Linked DNA regions of Homo sapiens. The protein of the gene in region 4 interacts with the protein of the main gene of each other region in a pairwise test. Each region holds a gene or a part of one and is shown on either strand. Other genes may lie near its edges.

Region 1 (3,500 bases), on a different chromosome or scaffold from region 4:
AGGACTGGGCCTCCCAATACTTTATCATCTTAGGTAGATATTGTCCTGAGTGTCTGTTGAGGTGACTGTCACCCACCGTCACCCCACCTCCTTGTGCCCACACACACCTGCACCTTCTGCTGAGTCTCCTCACGCTCGGCAGCCTCCAGGGCCTCGCGGGGCCCCCCAGTCTGACTCTTCAGGGTCTGAATCTCCTAGAGGAGAAGAGTTCCCAGGGTCTGTTGCGGGGGTCCTGGCTTTCCCACAGGAGGTGAGGGAAGGCGAGGCCCAGGAACCACACTTGGCACTCACCTGGTCCTTGGTTTGCACCAGAGCTTCCAGCTGTTCCAGCGACTGGCCCTGGCCCAGCCCCTCCTTCTCACCGGTGGGGGTCACCTCTGAAGCTGCCTGAGCCTCCAGCTCAGCCACCTGTAGGGCAGGAATAGCAGCCCCTGACGCCCCCGCCTGCACTCTCCCTTGCTCGCCCAACCTCTAGGGAATCTGCCTCCTGTCTGGCCACGCCCAGGACCGAGCACCCATCTCCCTTGGTTGGTGCCACCACCCCCCTCTGCACAGCTTGGACTTTAGTGTCTGATCACCCTCTGAGGCTGGCATTGTCTCAAACCCATTTTACAGAGCAAGAAACTGAGGCTGGGTCAGTGACCTGCTGAGGTCACACAGCTAGTCCATGAACCCAGGGCAGATGGGAACTGCCGAGGCGCGGTCTCCACAGTTGCCCGGGCCAGGTGGGGGTCTCTCGGAGGGAGGGGTGCCCTCACCCGCTGCCGCAGCCGCTCGGCCTCTGCACGCTGAGCCTCCAGCTGCTGCCTCCACTGGGCTGCGGCGGCGTTGGCCTCTCGCAGGGCGCCTGCCAGCTTGTTGTTGCTGTCCTGCAGTGCGAAAAACTCGGCCTCCCACTGTACCTCGCCCACGGAGCTGCAGAGACACGAGGGTCGGCAGTGGGTGACACGGGGCTGGGGGGCGGAGTCGGGCGATGCTGGGCTAGGGGGCGGGGCCAGGGGTGGGATAGCTCTGGGCTTAGGTCAGGGCGAAGGCTGGCGAGGGTGCGGAGTCGTGCGCGAAGTTGGACTAGGGGGCGGGGCAGGGGTGGAGTGGCACTGGGCTGGGGGCGGAGTCAGCGGCAATGCTCGGTTAGGGGGCGGGGCCAGGGTGGGTGGCGCTGGGCTGAGGCGGAGTCACGGGCGATGCTGGGCTAGGGGGCGGGGCCAGAGGAGGGGTGGCTTTGGGCTAGGGCACGGAGTCAGGGCCACGCAGGGCTGGGGATGTGGCGACACTGATTGCTGAGCTTGGGGATGGGGCAGTCCCGCAGAAGCGGGGTCTTGTCGAGGACCGAGTCAAAGAAGGGGGCACGTGGAGTCCGCCCAGTGACACTGTGGGAATGTTGAGGGAGGGATGGGAGGTTGGGGAGAGTCAGCCGATGGGGGCGTGGTCAGGGTGGTTATCCTAAGACCAGAGAGGCATCGACGGGGCGAGGTTAGCAGCGAGAAGAGACAGGGATGGGGTCAAAACAGAGGGGCGTGGCCAACGCAGGGTAGGGGCGGGGTCGGCTCTGGATGGGGCAGCATTCAGATCCTCATCCCCTTCCCCAGGTCTTGAGTCCACAGTTAGATCCCGCCGTCCTGGCACTCCCTTGGCTTCCAAGAACCGCCTCCTCGTCCCCCACCCCTACCCCCGCCCCTGCCACGCCCCCAAGTCCCGCCCCTCACCCCTCAGACAACATCTTCTTTAGCCGCTCGCGCTCTGTGGGGCCGGGGGCATCAGCGCTCTGGCTGCGGAACAGTTTTTCCTCGCCGGGGCCGTTGGCACTGACGAGAGGGCTCGGGGGCACCTAGGCACGGGGAAAAGAATAGGTCACGACCCCACATCAGCTGGGATCAAGGCTGATGTGACTGGGGTCGTCACATCGGGGGTGCAATTGACCTATGCACCCTAAGCAGGTCCTTCACAGCACAGGATCCAAGTGTGTCCCTCCCCACCTCACCCACCCTCCATGGCTCCCTGTGGCCCCTAAGCTGGGAGTTCCATGCCCACGCCCTCGACCTTGCCTTCCTGGGCTTTCACCACCCCCAGGAGCAAGTCTGATGCAGGTTAGTCTAAACCAAGATACTTAGAACCTGTAAGGTAGGGGAGGGGTACAATCGGACACCTCCCTGCTGTTCCCTTCCCTGAGGCCGAACTTCAACATCACGTTTAGGATTTCAGCAGGAAGCCCTGCCCAGGCCGAATTCGTGTTTCGTGAGCAACCCCACTGCCTGGACCACTGGCTCTGAGGGTAGACAAGCTGGCGGGTGCCCTGCGAGAGGCCAGCGCCACCGCAGCCCAGTGCAGGCAGCAGCTGGAGGCTCATGCTTTTTTTCATCTCTCCAACCCCTGTGCACAGCCCTCGGCCTGGTACACAGCAGGTGCTCAATAAATAATGCTGAATAAATTAATGTGGGAAAACACGCAGGGACAGTTCGTTGTTCTGCCTCACACTTAGCCATTTCTTTCTTTCTTTTTTTTTTTGAGACAGAGTCACACTCTGTCACCCAGGCTGGAGTGCAGTGGCACGATCTCGGCTCACTGCAACCTCCATCTCCTGGGTTCAAGCGATTCTCCTGCCTCAGCCTCCCGAGTAGCTGGGACTACAGGCGCATGCCACCACGCCTGGCTAATTTTTGTATTTTTTAGCAGAGGTGGAGTATCACCATGTTGGCCAGGCTGGTCTCGAACTCTTGGCCTCAAGTCATCCTCCCTCCTCAGCCTCCCAAATTGCTGGGATTACAGGCGTGAGCCACCGCACCCGGCCACACTTAGCCATTTCAATTTCTAGTCTTCCATCCTGCCATCTGAGCTGGTTTTGCTACTGGGACCTACTGGGTGTACCCCACCGGCCCCAGGCAAGGTCCAGACCCTCTATGACACACTCCACACCACTCCTCTGTGGTCCCTGCTGTGGGTCTAACCTTAGGTCATCTGGAAGCATTGGGTCTTGACGACCAGCAGAGTGCCCCGGTCTCCCAATATCAAGGTCCCCCAATATCAGTTGAGCGCCTGGCTGACTCACAGGTGCCCAGGCAGGCATAGGGGAGTAGGGAGTGCTGACCTGGTGGGAGGCGAGCCCCAGGGCTGGACTGGTGAGCTCCCCGCCATCCTGAGATTTCTCCCTGGCCAGCCTGGCTGCTTCCTTCACTTCCTGGAACTTCTCGGCAAACTAAGGGAGTGGGGAGGAAAAGACAGTAAAACCCCAGCCCATCCTCCCAAACAGGTCACCATCACTCAGTGACAGCCCCGCCACTTTCGAACCGTACCCATCCCCTTATCACACACCTTGGAAGAAGGAGAGAAACTTTGAAAAATGATGTACCATGGTGGGTGGGCAGGTGGCATCAGATCACAGAGGTGGCATTTAAATACATTGGGCCACATTGAGAAAGGGAAAGGAATTCCCATGTCCTCTTTTTAGGAAAGGGTCTCACTTTGTCACCCAGGCTGCAGTACAGTGGCATGATCTCGGCTCA
Region 2 (3,500 bases), on a different chromosome or scaffold from region 4:
TGTTGAATATGATGTTACTTGTAGGTTTTCTGTAGATTCCCTTTATCGAGTTGAGGAAATTCTCTTATATTCATAGTGTGTTGAGTGTTTTTTATCATGAAAGGGTGTTGATTTTTTTTTTAAAGATAGGGTCTTGTTCTGTCACCCAGGCTGGAGGGCAGTGGCATGATCATGGCTCACTGCAACCTCGAATTCCTGGGCTCAGGGGATCCTCCTACTTCATCCTCCTGAGTAGGTGAGACTACAGGCATGAGCCACCATGCCCAGCTAATTTTTTAATTTTTCTGTAGAGGTAGGGTCCTGCTTTGCTGCCCAGGCTGGTCTTAAACTCCAGGGCTCAAGCAATCCTGCCTCAGCCTCCCAAAGTGCTGAGATTACAGGGGTGAGTCACTGCACTGCACCCAGCTGTGTGGGATTTTTCAAATGCTTTTTTCCTTTAGATGATCATGTGTGGTTTTTTTCCTTTCATTTTGTTAATGTGGTATATTGATTTTCGTATGTTGAACCATCCTTGAATTCCTCAGATAAAGCACGCATATTCATGGCGTATTATCTCTTTATTATTATTATTTTTGTAGAGATGAGATTTCACTCTGTTGCCCAAGCTGGTCTCAAACTCCTGGGCTAAAGTGATCCTCCTGCCTCAGCCTCCGAAAGCGCTGGGATTATAGGCATGAGCCACTTGGCCCTATCTTTTTTCTTTTTCTTTTTTTTTTTTTTTGAGACAGAGTCTCACTCTGTCGCCGGGCTGGAGTGAGTGGCGCGATCTCGGCTCACTGCAACCTCCATCTCCCGGGTTCAAGCAATTCTCCTGCCTCAGCCTCCTGAGTAGCTGGGACTACAGGTGCCCGCCACTATGCCCAGCTAATTTTTTGTGTTTTTAGTTGAGACGGTGTTTTGCCATGTTGGACAGGCTGGTCTTGCACTCCTGACCTCGTGATTCACCCACCTTGGCCTCCCGAAGTGCTGGGATTACAGGCGTGAGCCACCGCAGCGAGCCTTATCTTTTTAACAGTTAAAAGTTTAAGGCCTTATCATGTAATAACATTGCTGGATTTGATTTGCTGCTGTTTTGTTGAGAATATTTGCATCTGTATTGATAAGGGATATTGGTCTGTAGTTTTCTTTTCTTGGCATGTCTTTGTATAGCTTTGATGCCAGCATAATATTGGCCTCATAGAATGAGTTAGGAAGTATTCTTTATATTATGGGAAGAGGTAAAAAGGGATTGGTGTTAATTCTTCTTCAAATGTTTGATAGAATTCAACAGTGAAGTGATATATACAATCATATATAGAGAGAGAGAGAGAGAGAGAGAGATGGACTTTTCTTTTGTTGGAAGTTTATTGACTATTGATTCAATTTCCTTATTGAAATTGACTTTTCTTTTTGGAAGCTAAAACGTATAACTGTAGTGAAAGTTTCTGAACTTTTCTTTCATTGGAAGTTTTTTGACTACTGATTCTTTATTTGTTATAGGTCTATTCAGATTTTCTGTTTCTTCTTGAGTCAGTTTGGTCTCGCTCTGTCGCCCAGGCTGGAGTGCAGTGGTGCCATCTTGGCTCACTGCAACTTCTACCTCCCGAGTTCAAGTGATTCTCCCACCTCAGCCTCCCCAGTATCTCGGACTACAGGCGCACGCCAGCATACCTGGCTAATTTTTGTATTTTTAGTAGGAACAGCATTTCACCATGTTGGCCAGGCTGGTCTCGAACTCCTGACCTCAGGTGATCCACCCGCCTCGGCCTCACAAAGTGCTGGGACTACAGACATAAGCCACCGCGTCCAGCCTTGAGTCAGTTTAGATAGTTTGCATGCATGTTTCTAGGAATTTGTCCATTTTGTTTATGTTATCTAATCTGTTACCATACAATTGTTCATAGTATCCTTTTATAGCCCTAGTTATTTCTGTAAGATCAGTAGTAATAGCTCCACTTTCTCTCTTGGTTTTAGCAATTTGAGTCATCTCTTTTCTTCCTCTTTTTTTTTTTTTGAGATGGAGTCTCACTGTGTCACCCAGGCTGGAGTGCAGTGGCATGATCTTGGCTCACTGCAACCCCTGCCTCCCAGGTTCAAGCAATTCTGCCTTAGCCTCCTGAGTAGCTGGGATTACAGGTGTGAGCCACCACACCCAGCTAGTTTTGTTTTGTTTTTTTGTTTTTGAGACGGAGTCTGTTTCTGTCTCCCAGGCTGGAGTGCAGTGGTGCAATCTCACTCATTGCAACCTCCGACTCCCAGATTCCAGCAATTCTCCTGCCTCAGCCTCCTGAGTAGCTGGAACTATAGGCGTGCACCACCACGCCTGGCTGATTTTTATATTTTTAGTAGAGATGGGATTTCACCATGTTGGCCAGGCTGGTCTTGGACTCCCTACCTGAGGTGATCCGCCCACCTTGGCCTCCCAAAGTGCTGGGATTATAGGCATGAGCCACCATGCCCAGCCAGTTTTTGTATTTTTAGTAGAGATGGGGTTTCTCCCTGTCGGCCAGGCTGGTCTTGAAATCCTGACCTCAGGTTATCCACCAGCCTTGGCCTCCCAAAGTGCTAGGATTACAGGCATGAGCCACCACGCATGGCCTGTCTTTTCTTCTTGGTCATTTTCGCTAAAGGTTTGTCAATTTTGTTGATCTTTTTTGTTGCTGATCTCTATTGTTTTCCCATTCTGTTTCATTTATTTCCATTTTAACCTTTGTTTCCTTTTTTCTGCTGGTTTGGGTTTAATTTGCTCTTTTTTTCCCCTAATTTTTCAAGGTATACAGTTAAGTTATTGATTTGAGATCTCTTTTTTCTTTTCTTTTTTTTTTTTTTTTTTTTTTTTTGGTTGCTGTTGAGATGGAGTCTCCCTCTGTCACCCAGACTGGAGTGCAGTGGCATGATCTCAGCTCACTGCAGCCTCCGCCGCCCAGGCGATTCTCCTGCCTCAGCCTCCTGAGTAGACGTTTCCCGGCCAAGGTGTTTCTTTTTGAATGTAAGCATTTACAGCTACAGATTTCCCTCTAAACACTGCTTTCACTGCATTCCATAAGATTGTTTTTTGTTGTTGTTTTGTTGTTTGAGACACAGTCTCACTCTGTTGCCGTTTGGAGAGCAGCGATGCGATCATAGCTCTGTAGCCTTGAGCTCCTGGACTCAATCAGTCCTCCTGCCTCAGCCTCCCAAGTAGCTGGGACTACAGGTGTACACCACTGCACCTAACTAATTTCTTTTATAAGTTTTTGCAGAGGCCAGGCACAGTGGCTCACACCTGTAATCCCAGCACTTTGGGAGGCCAAGGTGGGTGGATCACCTAAGGTCAGGAGTTCGAGACCAGCCTGGCCGACAGGGAGAAACCCCATCTCTACTAAAAATACAAAAATTAGCTGGGCGTGGTGGCAGGTGCCTGTAATCCCAGCTACTCAGGAGGCTGAGGCAGGAGAATCGCTTGAACCTGGGAGGCAGAGGTTGCAGTGAGCCAGGATCACACCATTGCACTCCAGCCTGGGTAACAAAAGCAAAACTCC
Region 3 (3,500 bases), on a different chromosome or scaffold from region 4:
AAAAAATTAACAGGAAATAATAGAGGCTAAAGTTCTCTGTCATCTGTCAGCCAGTGAGCTACTGAGTGTGTGTATGTGTGTGTGTATTCCCTTCCGTCTTTTTAAAAATTTTTATTTTTAGGGACAGGATCTTTTTTTTTTTTTTTTTTTTTTGAGACAGAGTCTCGCTGTGTCACCCAGGCTGGAGTGTGGTGGCGCCATCTTGGCTCACTGCAACCTCTGCCTCCTGGGTTCAAGTGATTCTCCTGCCTCAGCCTCCTGAGTAGCTGGGTTTGCAAGCACCCACCACCATGCCCAGCTAATTTTTGTATTTTTAGTAGAGATGGGGTTTCACTATGTTGGCCAGGCTGGTCTCGAACTCCTGACCTCAGATGATAGCCCACCTCAGCCTCCCAAAGTGCTGGGATTACAGGCGTGAGCCATCACGCCCGGCCCCATAGTGTATAGACTACTACAGACTATTTAATATTTCTGCATTTTCACCTAACATCATAATTTTATCATTTTCTTAAATTGCATCCCAGTCTTCATAATTATCAAAGAATGTAAAACTCAGTTTTTAAAAACGTTCAGTTGCTTTGCTATTTAAACAAAATCCCATATATCTTCAGACCAAACTGTCTTAGTTTGCTACGTATAAGAATTATTAATTCGTGGCCAGGCGCGGTGGCTCACGCCTGTAATTCCAGCACTTTGGGAGGCTGAGGCAGGTGGATCACGAGGTCAGGAGATCGAGACCATCCTGGCTAACACAGTGAAACCCGGTCTCTACTAAAAATACAAAAAATTAGCTGGGCATGGTGGCGGGCACCTGTAGTCTCAGCTACTCGGGAGGCTGAGGCAGGAGAATGGCATGAACCCAGGAGGCGGAGCTTGCAGTGGGCTGAGATCACGCCACTGCACTCCAGCCTGGGCAACAGAGCGAGACTCCATCTCAAAAAAAAAAAAAAAAGAATTATTAATTCGTTTTGACCTAAACTTGGAATTGAATTTTTTTTCTGAAACAAAAACTTGTTTCCTCTTGTCTTAGGTATGCAGAGAAGGAGAAGAAAAATCTTAGATACGTCAGTGGCATATGTGCGGGGAGAAGAGAACTTAGCAGGCTGGCGGCCCCGTGGAGACAGCCTCATCCTTGAGCACCAGTGGGAGCTGGAGAAGCTGGAGCTCCTACATGAGGTATCCAGGGGCAGGGTTGTTCAGATGCAAGAACTCTCGGACAAGATTGCCAAAGTATCAGTCTTCCTCCCCGCTGCTGCATGTGATCATAGCTTTTCACTTTTCTCTCCTGAGGTCTTAACGAGCTTTGTGTTTGCTATAGCAGTAGTATTGATCTTCTCAGGTGGAAAAAACCCGCCACTTTTTGCTGCTGCGTGAGAGACTTGGTGACAGCATCCCCAAATCCCTGAGCGACTCGTTATCCCCCAGCCTCAGCAGTGGGACCCTCAGCACCTCCACCAGTATCTCCTCTCAGATCTCAACCACTACCTTTGAAAGCGCCATCACACCTAGCGAGAGCAGTGGCTATGATTCAGGAGACATCGAAAGCCTGGTGGACCGAGAGAAAGAGCTGGCTACCAAGGTGTGAATCCCTTCCTCTTTGCTGAACGTCTTCCCACAAGGCTCCACAAACTAGCCTCTCGGTTTATTCATTTTCAACACCTTTGTTCGAGGTGTTTGAAGGCCTGTGATAATACTGTGAATGTAGAAATAAAAAGACGCAGTTCCTACCCTCAACAAGCTTACAGGGCCAGGCACAGTGCCTGATGCCTATTATCCCACCACTTTGGGAGGCTGAAGCAAAGGGATTGCTTGAGCCCAGGAGTTAAAGACAAGCCCAGGCTAACATAGTGAGACCTTGTCTCTACAAAAACAAAAATTAGGCCAGGCATGGTGGCTCACACCTGTAATCCCAGCACTTTGCAGGGCTGAGGCAGGTGGATTACCTGAGGTCTGGAGTTCGAGACCAGCCTGGCCAACATGGTGAAACCCTGTCTCTACTAAAAATACAAAAATTAGCCAGGCGTGGTGGCGAGCGCCTGTAATCCCAGCTACTCAGGAGGCTGAGGCAGGAGAATTGCTTGAACCCAGGAGGCGGAGATTGCAGTGAGCCGAGATAGCTCCACTGTGCTCCAGCCTGAGCGACAGAGTGACACTCCATCTCAAAAAATAAAATAAAATAATAAAAAATTAAAAAATTAAAAAATATAAAGGTTGCAGAATATTAGGTCACAAGCATATAATAGAGATGTGTGTTTCAAATGCTATGGGAGTCAGAGGAGAAGTGTCTATGGTGGGGAGCTCATGAGCTGACCTTGAAAGGATGCGCAGGAGGGAGGCAGCAGTGTCGACACCTGCGTGATCAGGAGGGAGGCAGTGGTGTCCTGCGTGATCAGGAGGGAGGCAGCGGTGTCTTGCGTGATCAGGAGGGAGGCAGCGGTGTCCTGCGTGATCAGGAGGGAGGCAGTGGTGTCCTGCATGATCAGTCTTGGGGAATTCACGTGGGACTGGAACAGGAGGTGTGGAGTGAAGAATCTTGTATACTGCACTGAAGAGTTTAGAGTGGATGATGGGAGCAAGGCAGAAATATGTTAAACAGGTATTTGTGTTTTAGAAAGATTTCTGGCGAGGGGCGGTGGCTCACGCCTGTAATCCCACCACTTTGAGAGGCCGAGGCAGGTGGATCACAAGGTCAGGAGATTGAGACCATCCTGGCCAACATGGTGAAACCCCGTGTCTACTAAAAATACAAAAATTAGCCGAACGTGGTGGCGTGCGCCTGTAGTCCCAGCTACTAAGGAGGCTGAGGCAGGAGAATCGCTTGAACCCAGGTGGCGGAGGCTGCAGTGAGCCGAGATCGCGCCACTGCACTCCAGCCTGGGCAACAGAGTGAGACACCATCTCAAAAAATATATATATTTCTCTGGCAGCAATAAAGAGAATGGATTGATGGTGAAGAGATACACTGAGGAAGGGAGAATTCTTTATCTTTATTACAGTAATCTGATGAGAAATGATAAAAGCTTTTTAAAATTTTATTTTTTTTGAGATGGAGTCTCACTCCTGTCACACAGGCTGGGATGCAGTGGCATGATCTTGGCTCACTGCAACCTCCACTTCCCAGGTTCAAGCGATTCTCCTTCCTCAGCCTCCCAAGTAGCTTGGAGTACAGGCATGTGCCACCACACCTGGCTAATTTTTGTATTTTTAGTAGAGACAGAGTTTCACCATGTTGGCCAGGCTGGTCTTGAACTCCTGACCTCAGGTGATCCACCCGCCTCAGCCTCCCAAAGTGCTAGGATTACAGGTGTGTGGACGCCCAGCCAGATAAAAGTTTTTTAAAGAAGGCAGAGGTGGCTGGGTGCGGTGGCACACGCCTGTAATCCCAGCACTTTGGGAGGCTGAGGTGGGCGGATTGTGAGGTCAAGAGATCACTATGATGTTTTTATTTTTTATTTTTATCTTTATTAAATTTTTTTTTTTTTTGAGATGGAGTCTTGCTC
Region 4 (2,839 bases):
TTTGACACGTGTGGATTATGGAGATTATAGGGATTACAATTCAAGATGAGATTTTGGGTGGGAACACAGCCAAACCATATCAAAGCAGATTATATGAAGAAAAAAAAAAATCCCCTTTTACCTACTTTTTAGTTTATTATATATTTTTGTAGAAACTTATTTTGGTAGAAAAGTTGTTTGGTGCGCATGTCATAGTTACCCGTAAAACCTCACAAATGTTTAAGAAAATAAAATTATAAGCACAGTCTGTTTAAAAGCTAAATTATTTTTTGTCAGAAAAAAAAAAATCTAAGGTATTCATTTCCTCTGTGGCCTGGGTTACAAAGAGTAAATTTATAATCGAATGGAAAAAAAAAAAGTCTCAGAGGGAAAAAAGGTAGTGAATTCTTCAAATAAATAACTGTGCTGTCTTGTGATTTCAAATACAGTGTGCTTGATTCATAATACTATTAAAATATTCATTTCATACTTACGGAATATGAAAAACAGAAAATCCAATATTTGGAAGAAGTGTTTATTCTACGAGCAGATGTCATCCGCAAAGTTTATCAATTTACAATTAGGAAGGATTATGAGCCAAAGAGAAAGTTTTACAAAATAATACAATAAGACTAGCATCCAAATCGCATAGATTTATATGAGTGTGAAAAATAGGGACTCACTTTTTCAATTATGGGAAGCGTAGTGGGGGGAGAAAAGCAATTGTGTTCTGTGATAAATGAGCCTTTCTTAGCTGAGAAATCAGTTGCTTCCCATTTTATGTACTCAATTTGTGCACTTTCTATTCTATGCTCCAAACCATTTCTTTCATCTTATGAATAGAAGAAAATTAGAATTGTACTATTGAGGACATATGAGGAATTTATTCTTGAAATAAATTAACTACAATGATGCATTGTTGCGGTACTTTGATATAAAATCAGAAAGATACTGAGCTTGGAGAAGCATAATATTGTTATCACTTACAACTAAGTTTATTTGGGGGAGGAAAATATCTTGACTGATTCACCAATGTAAATGCACTGAAGGCAGCACACACCTCTGATGCGATTTGATGTGAGTTGTCATGTTAAATCTCAGACCCGGGGTATTATTAGGGTGCATTGCTTGCATCTAACAACCCATGCTCCAAGAAACCACGGTGAGAGCCAAGAAGTGAACCATTTTTTTTATATCCTGCATTTATTTAAGCAAACCAAATGTGTAGAGATAGGAAATTAATGTGTTATAATGTTTTACAAATACAGAGAGAAAACACAGAATATTAAGACCCTGAAGAGAGTGCATTTGAGAACGCAGTTCTATCATAGGAGACCACTTGCAGGGAACACATTAAAGCCATTGCTGACACAGCCATCTGTCATTCCTGGTTTGCCGTCATTTAAGTAGTTTCAATAGATAAATCGGTGATTTGCTTTTAAACAAATATTAATGTTAATGATTAGGGTAGCCTTGAAGGGTTTGTGAGTGACTGTACTATACAATGTGATGCTAGGCTTAATGTGTCATTTCAATGCTGTTGTACATTATGCAGGGGAAATAATGTCTTATTACACATTAACTGCGACATCCACTAAAATGTGAACTAGTTTGCATAGGTTAGTCCTTTGGGCAGCACGATGTTGCTCTAGTCCACCAAGGCTTAAAGATTCACAGTGTAGAGGAAAAAAATATGAATTAAAGCATTTCTACTAAAATATATTTTAATAGCTGGTGTTAACAATTTGCATAACAAAAGCCAAATTATATTAGTAACATTGTAACATTCCGTGAAGCCCCTTCATTTGCAAAACATTCAATGTTTTCTTCAAAACTGTTACACTCTCAAAGTTAGTCTCGCAAATTAATCATCAACCACAATTCTACATATTTTGAAGCAAACAGAAGCCAAACTGTACAATGGTTCAATTTTGATCACAGGTCAAACATCAAGTTTCACACCATGCCTGTAATAGACTTGGTGCTGCTTCCTAAATGCTCAGCAATTCATTGCATGGACACTGGAGAATGGGACTGTGATGCAGTTTTCTCTTTTCCTTTAAAGTACATCATTCTTAACAGCAACTGGATTACAAAGAAGTGATACTATGCAAACTGGATACCATGTATCAAGCACAAAAAATCCTATGGCATTCCCAGGAATATACTGAAGTCATACAGACAACTGAGAAAATTTGCTCAAAGATTCTTCCAAGTTTATGGGTTCAAGTAGTCTAAGCATCACAGAATAATAACCACAGAAGCAACATACAATGCCTTGACTTTTTTGATCAACAGTTGACAGTTAGTTGCGAGGAAAGGGTCCAAAAGGCATGGAATACTTCAGAGACTTTTATTTTAGCATCCTTGTCAGTTTACATAGCTTCTTACTTAACTAAAAGCTCTCCCACCTCCATATCACCTTAACCAAAACAACCACAATCTAGCCACTTTTAGATTATCAGAAGCAAATCGCTAAGGTATAATTAATTTATGAAGTGAAGTTCATCTTGTGTAGTGAATCCAGCCTCACAATTATTCTATCTTACAATAGGCATTTTAAATCCCAAATCTAAAGTTAATGTTTATATAGCTCAACTCTATATAAATCCACAAAGAACCTTTCAGAAATAGATGGAAGAAGTCGGCATTTTCTAAAGTTCTAAATCTTTAGAGATAAAATACAATCAGCTAACACCTTTAATATCTGAGGAGCATCCCACTTCCCTACCACAAAAATATCAATCATGTGTAATAAAATATTACTATAGAATAGGCAGCAACTTGCTTGCTTGGTTTTCTTTCCAAGAGCATACTAGACAAACAAGAGTAATCAAAAAGGCACCTATATTTGTATATA

Evidence for each region. Proteins that work in one complex are often made in the same cells at the same time.
Region 1: the proteins of NEBL (region 4) and HOMER3 interact in binary tests that used the Homo sapiens proteins (3 or more experiments, as listed by UniProt).
Region 2: the proteins of NEBL (region 4) and ZGPAT interact in binary tests that used the Homo sapiens proteins (3 or more experiments, as listed by UniProt).
Region 3: the proteins of NEBL (region 4) and KIF1B interact in binary tests that used the Homo sapiens proteins (3 or more experiments, as listed by UniProt).

What each region holds. Positions count from the first base shown.
Region 1 is NC_000019.10:18,931,218-18,934,717, forward strand, and holds part of HOMER3 (homer protein homolog 3), read right to left. Parts: intron 3,194-3,500; coding exon 3,086-3,193; intron 1,829-3,085; coding exon 1,707-1,828; intron 916-1,706; coding exon 759-915; intron 409-758; coding exon 292-408; intron 195-291; coding exon 108-194; intron 1-107. UniProt on the Homo sapiens protein: Postsynaptic density scaffolding protein. Binds and cross-links cytoplasmic regions of GRM1, GRM5, ITPR1, DNM3, RYR1, RYR2, SHANK1 and SHANK3.
Region 2 is NC_000020.11:63,714,539-63,718,038, forward strand, and holds part of ZGPAT (zinc finger CCCH-type with G patch domain-containing protein), read left to right. Parts: intron 1-3,500. UniProt on the Homo sapiens protein: Transcription repressor that specifically binds the 5'-GGAG[GA]A[GA]A-3' consensus sequence. Represses transcription by recruiting the chromatin multiprotein complex NuRD to target promoters.
Region 3 is NC_000001.11:10,364,070-10,367,569, forward strand, and holds part of KIF1B (kinesin-like protein KIF1B), read left to right. Parts: intron 1-1,030; coding exon 1,031-1,176; intron 1,177-1,339; coding exon 1,340-1,579; intron 1,580-3,500. UniProt on the Homo sapiens protein: Has a plus-end-directed microtubule motor activity and functions as a motor for transport of vesicles and organelles along microtubules.
Region 4 is NC_000010.11:20,779,473-20,782,311, forward strand, and holds the end of NEBL (nebulette), read right to left. Parts: 3' UTR 501-2,839; downstream 1-500. UniProt on the Homo sapiens protein: Binds to actin and plays an important role in the assembly of the Z-disk. May functionally link sarcomeric actin to the desmin intermediate filaments in the heart muscle sarcomeres.